Homo sapiens: one gene and its partner. The protein of the gene in region 1 interacts with the protein of each later gene in a biochemical or structural test. Each region holds a gene or a part of one and is shown on either strand. Other genes may lie near its edges. The genes, in order: PRDX6 and STH.

What was found.
Region 2: the proteins of PRDX6 (region 1) and STH form a complex in vitro, tested with the Homo sapiens proteins (one study listed by BioGRID).

Annotation. Positions count from the first base shown.
Region 1 is NC_000001.11:173,483,775-173,487,599, reverse strand, and holds part of PRDX6 (peroxiredoxin-6), read right to left. Parts: intron 2,240-3,825; coding exon 2,093-2,239; intron 1,346-2,092; coding exon 1,199-1,345; intron 1-1,198. UniProt on the Homo sapiens protein: Thiol-specific peroxidase that catalyzes the reduction of hydrogen peroxide and organic hydroperoxides to water and alcohols, respectively. Can reduce H(2)O(2) and short chain organic, fatty acid, and phospholipid hydroperoxides.
Region 2 is NC_000017.11:45,997,735-46,000,504, forward strand, and holds STH (saitohin), read left to right. Parts: upstream 1-1,515; 5' UTR 1,516-1,545; coding exon 1,546-1,932; 3' UTR 1,933-1,960; downstream 1,961-2,770.

The DNA of each region.
Region 1 (3,825 bases):
ATTTTGTTTTCCAAGTTGATCTTTGGCACTTTTGGCAGGAAAGCAGTTCCCCCATCTTAACAAGAAACAGTCCTGTTTTAAACCCAGTAACAGCTGGCCACCACACTTTACATTTAATTCTGAGTATCATGGCCTGCAAGCCCTGTGTGATGGAATCCTGCCTCCTCTCATCTCTTGTCCCTCACCCCACCTTCTGCAGCTTCTTCTCCAAGCATGCTAGCTTTCCTTGTATTCCTCCAACATGCCAAGCTCACTTGTAGGCCCAGTTTCTTGCACTAACTGCTCCTTCTGCCTATAGTGCTCGTCCCTCACAAGTATACATGCCTTGGTCACATCTTCTCTGTGTTTTTCTCCAAAGGTCCCTTCATAGACAGGCATTCCTTGACAGTCACTCTCCCACCCCTGTGCTGTTATTCTCCCCATCTGTGCTTGATTCTTCCCTGTAGCACCTGTTATCACCACTTAATAAACTTGTTTACTGTTTGTCTCCACTCACTGGAATGGAAGTTCTATGAGGGCAAGGACTTTCTATTATTCACTGCTATCTCCCCAGTTCACTACTATCTGGGCTCAATAAGTACATAAATAAGTAATAATAAGTTAACTAGTGGATACAGAATTTAAGTGATTTGTCTGTCAGAAAAAAACAAAACAAAACCTGCTATTCAGGTTAGCATTATTTTAAAAATGTAGCAATGTTAAGATACTCTTGTGATGTTATCCATGTCCTAAAGATGAAAAGTTTATGAACAAATTTTGGAGAATTCTAGCACAGGTTTAAAAGAATGAAGCTTAAGAGAAATTAAATACTTAATGACATTAATACACCAGTACTTTTACAGCCATGACTTAACGGAAATGGCCAATTAAGATTGTGCGATAAATATTTTGCCATCAGGGAAGGGTTAGATAAAATTTTTTTTTTTAAACCTTCTATTAGGAAAAGGAATCATTCTGACCAATAATTTTTCCAAATTATCTAAAAGTTGGAAAGCCATATAGGGAGTTTGTGTTGTGTATAAAAGGTGTTATAAAGACCTTGAAAAGGGCCTTTCAGCAAATCTTGAACTCAGCCATGAGGAAAAATCCTCCCAGTGTACTTGCGTGCTAGAAACAGGTAACACAGACCTTGAAGTTGGCCATTTAGAGACTGGCCCTTCAGGCAAGTAGAGAAACTGCTTTTTAAAAACATCTTTACCTTCCAATCAACTGGGGTGGCAACCCTTTTTTCTGCTGTCAGCTGGAGAGAGATGACTACCCTGAGAATCTCATCAAAGTTCCTGCCAGTGGTAGCTGGGTAGAGGATAGACAGCTTCAGCTTCTTATCAGGACCAAAAACAAACACCTGTAAAGCACAGAGGGGCATAAATAGGAAGAGTTCTTTGAGTGTTATTAAAGCCACTTAGAAAGCTCTGCAGTCATTAATAATGTTCAAGGGTATAAAAACAAGACAAAAACAAAGCATCTAGAAGGATACACCAACTGCTAATGTGGATGGCTGGAATACAGATAATTTTCTTCTCCCTGTTATTTTCTAAACGTAGAAGGGAATTCTATTTGGTTCTGGCTTTCCCAGTAAGAAAAACTGATATGCAAATTTAATCGAGGGAAAGGCTGTGTCAATTGGGGATGACTATCATAAAAATAATACTAATGGGAGTTGATATTGTTCCTTGAATAGTTGTGCATTTATTCAGATGAGGGATTGGGTTTGTTTTCTAGTGGGCGGAGGACAGAACAAATAAAAATTTAAAACAGAGCTGCCTTATGAAGAAGGATATGGCCCATCACTTTAAAGACAGGGCGGTCAGGAGAGCAGTCAGGAGAGCTATGAAAAGGTTTCTCAATTCTGGAAGACATTTTAGGATAAACAACTTTTTTTTTGTAGATTTCCATGAACTATGAATAAAGCAGTTGGAAAATTTAGCTGAAAATTGCATCAGCATTACAGATAATCAGTGATATTGTCGCCAATACACAGTTATTTCATAATCGTAGATATTCCCCTATCTCCTCTAGCTGGTACCAGCATTTACACGGACATACAGCCTGATCAGTTAAGCTAACTACAAAATGAATTTGTATGACCTACCACACGAGCTGTCACAGGCATGCCCTTTTCATCCTTCTCTGCTGGATCCAGCATGCCCAACAGGATGGCAAGCTCCCGATTCCTATCATCGATGATGGGAAAAGGTAACTTTTCTGTGGGCTCTTCACAATTGTAAGCATTGATATCCTGAAACACAAGTAAAAGGGGAAAGAGGAATCTAAACCCAACACATGCTCTGAATTTCATCAGTTAACAGCCATCACCTTGCAAGACAGGAAAGAGGACCAAATCACAGTAATTTTCTTTAAGCAATTTTAATTTTAAAAAGTGAGTAGATGAACACTCTTCATTCCAATTATTGCCAGGAATAACAGCAGAGTACAGTACTTAGGTTGTAATCATGGACCAAAGCTGTTTTCATGCCCAGTTCTCTTAAATTCAGCATGCTTTTACTGCTATGAGAAAATAGCAGCAACCCCTTTAAAATTGCAATAATTTAGTTAGATCCAAATACAAGGTACCTCTGGGTACCCAAATACTGTAAAAATCATCAGATAACAATAGGTTTGTTAAATCCATCACATCTAGAAATAATGCCATATGTAAAGAAAATCTTATAGATCTGGTCCCTACCTCATAAAGCACCCTGACTCAGATGCTAAGTTACAAGACAAATAAGAAATGACCAAAAAAAAAAAAAACAAATCACAAAACAAAGCAAACACAAGAATGGAGAGTTGAATATATACTTGAAGGACAAGTCAAAAATAAATGGGTGAAGAGGCAGAAGTAAACCTAAACTAGGGTGAAATTCAAAGAGAAAACAAAGCATTTCAAGTCTGAACTAAAGAAAAATGATACACTTCCCTCCTTCCCTAGTAAAACTTTATTCATCCATTTATTTCTACTTTTCCTATCCCTGGAAGCTTTTGGAGAAAAAAAAAATCTAGTTTTGTTATTTGATTAAGCATTGATATAGCACTTAAGGTGGGCTAAGCATTATGGTAAATACATGTGGAATACAGATGAGTAAGACACGGCTCCTCCCTTCAAAGGAACTTCTCATTTGGTTAGAGATGATTCCAGTATGAAGCAGCAGCAAATGCAAGACTAATGTTAAATGGTGGATGGTAAATACTGAAGTATACGAACACTCCCATTTGTAGGACTCCAAAAGTTACAAAAGGCTTCAAGAAAAGAACAGGACTTCTATCTAGGCCCTTGAAGGATGGGTAAGATTTTTCACAGAGAAAAGAAAGGCATTCTAGGAATCAGGAACTATATATATATATGCACACACACATATATATATGTGTATATATATTATATACGTGTGCATATGTATATATATGTATGTGTGTGTGTGTGTATATATATAAATATATATATATATAAATATATATATCTAATTTTTTTTTTTTTTTTTTTTTGAGACAGAGTCTTGCTGTCGCCCAGGCTGGAGTGCACTGGTGCGAACTTGGCTCACCGCAACCTTGGCTCACTGCAACCTCCGCCTCCCAGGTTCAAGCAATTCTCTGCCTCAGCCTCCTGAATAGCTGGGATTACAGGCACCCGCCACCACACCGGCTAATTTTTTTTTGTATTTTTAGTAGAAACGGGGTTTCGCCATCTTGGCCAGGCTGGCCTTGAACTCCTAACCTTGTGATCCACCTGCCTCAGCCTCCCAGAGTGTTGGGATTACAGGCGAGAGCCACTGTGCCCGGCCAGGAACGATATTAATGAAACATGTGGGCAACTCTGTACATAAACTA
Region 2 (2,770 bases), on another chromosome or scaffold:
GAGCAACAGAGCGAGACTCTGTCTCAAAACAAAATAAAACAAACCAAAAAAACCCACCATGGCTTAGGGCCCAGCCTGATGACCTCATTTTTCACTTAGTCACCTCTCTAAAGGCCCTGTCTCCAAATAGAGTCACATTCTAAGGTACGGGGGTGTTGGGGAGGGGGGTTAGGGCTTCAACATGTGAATTTGCGGGGACCACAATTCAGCCCAGGACCCCGCTCCCGCCACCCAGCACTGGGGAGCTGGGGAAGGGTGAAGAGGAGGCTGGGGGTGAGAAGGACCACAGCTCACTCTGAGGCTGCAGATGTGCTGGGCCTTCTGGGCACTGGGCCTCGGGGAGCTAGGGGGCTTTCTGGAACCCTGGGCCTGCGTGTCAGCTTGCCTCCCCCACGCAGGCGCTCTCCACACCATTGAAGTTCTTATCACTTGGGTCTGAGCCTGGGGCATTTGGACGGAGGGTGGCCACCAGTGCACATGGGCACCTTGCCTCAAACCCTGCCACCTCCCCCCACCCAGGATCCCCCCTGCCCCCGAACAAGCTTGTGAGTGCAGTGTCACATCCCATCGGGATGGAAATGGACGGTCGGGTTAAAAGGGACGCATGTGTAGACCCTGCCTCTGTGCATCAGGCCTCTTTTGAGAGTCCCTGCGTGCCAGGCGGTGCACAGAGGTGGAGAAGACTCGGCTGTGCCCCAGAGCACCTCCTCTCATCGAGGAAAGGACAGACAGTGGCTCCCCTGTGGCTGTGGGGACAAGGGCAGAGCTCCCTGGAACACAGGAGGGAGGGAAGGAAGAGAACATCTCAGAATCTCCCTCCTGATGGCAAACGATCCGGGTTAAATTAAGGTCCGGCCTTTTCCTGCTCAGGCATGTGGAGCTTGTAGTGGAAGAGGCTCTCTGGACCCTCATCCACCACAGTGGCCTGGTTAGAGACCTTGGGGAAATAACTCACAGGTGACCCAGGGCCTCTGTCCTGTACCGCAGCTGAGGGAAACTGTCCTGCGCTTCCACTGGGGACAATGCGCTCCCTCGTCTCCAGACTTTCCAGTCCTCATTCGGTTCTCGAAAGTCGCCTCCAGAAGCCCCATCTTGGGACCACCGTGACTTTCATTCTCCAGGGTGCCTGGCCTTGGTGCTGCCCAAGACCCCAGAGGGGCCCTCACTGGCCTTTCCTGCCTTTTCTCCCATTGCCCACCCATGCACCCCCATCCTGCTCCAGCACCCAGACTGCCATCCAGGATCTCCTCAAGTCACATAACAAGCAGCACCCACAAGGTGCTCCCTTCCCCCTAGCCTGAATCTGCTGCTCCCCGTCTGGGGTTCCCCGCCCATGCACCTCTGGGGGCCCCTGGGTTCTGCCATACCCTGCCCTGTGTCCCATGGTGGGGAATGTCCTTCTCTCCTTATCTCTTCCCTTCCCTTAAATCCAAGTTCAGTTGCCATCTCCTCCAGGAAGTCTTCCTGGATTCCCCTCTCTCTTCTTAAAGCCCCTGTAAACTCTGACCACACTGAGCATGTGTCTGCTGCTCCCTAGTCTGGGCCATGAGTGAGGGTGGAGGCCAAGTCTCATGCATTTTTGCAGCCCCCACAAGACTGTGCAGGTGGCCGGCCCTCATTGAATGCGGGGTTAATTTAACTCAGCCTCTGTGTGAGTGGATGATTCAGGTTGCCAGAGACAGAACCCTCAGCTTAGCATGGGAAGTAGCTTCCCTGTTGACCCTGAGTTCATCTGAGGTTGGCTTGGAAGGTGTGGGCACCATTTGGCCCAGTTCTTACAGCTCTGAAGAGAGCAGCAGGAATGGGGCTGAGCAGGGAAGACAACTTTCCATTGAAGGCCCCTTTCAGGGCCAGAACTGTCCCTCCCACCCTGCAGCTGCCCTGCCTCTGCCCATGAGGGGTGAGAGTCAGGCGACCTCATGCCAAGTGTAGAAAGGGGCAGATGGGAGCCCCAGGTTATGACGTCACCATGCTGGGTGGAGGCAGCACGTCCAAATCTACTAAAGGGTTAAAGGAGAAAGGGTGACTTGACTTTTCTTGAGATATTTTGGGGGACGAAGTGTGGAAAAGTGGCAGAGGACACAGTCACAGCCTCCCTTAAATGCCAGGAAAGCCTAGAAAAATTGTCTGAAACTAAACCTCAGCCATAACAAAGACCAACACATGAATCTCCAGGAAAAAAGAAAAAGAAAAATGTCATACAGGGTCCATGCACAAGAGCCTTTAAAATGACCCGCTGAAGGGTGTCAGGCCTCCTCCTCCTGGACTGGCCTGAAGGCTCCACGAGCTTTTGCTGAGACCTTTGGGTCCCTGTGGCCTCATGTAGTACCCAGTATGCAGTAAGTGCTCAATAAATGTTTGGCTACAAAAGAGGCAAAGCTGGCGGAGTCTGAAGAATCCCTCAACCGTGCCGGAACAGATGCTAACACCAAAGGGAAAAGAGCAGGAGCCAAGTCACGTTTGGGAACCTGCAGAGGCTGAAAACTGCCGCAGATTGCTGCAAATCATTGGGGGAAAAACGGAAAACGTCTGTTTTCCCCTTTGTGCTTTTCTCTGTTTTCTTCTTTGTGCTTTTCTCTGTTTTCAGGATTTGCTACAGTGAACATAGATTGCTTTGGGGCCCCAAATGGAATTATTTTGAAAGGAAAATGCAGATAATCAGGTGGCCGCACTGGAGCACCAGCTGGGTAGGGGTAGAGATTGCAGGCAAGGAGGAGGAGCTGGGTGGGGTGCCAGGCAGGAAGAGCCCGTAGGCCCCGCCGATCTTGTG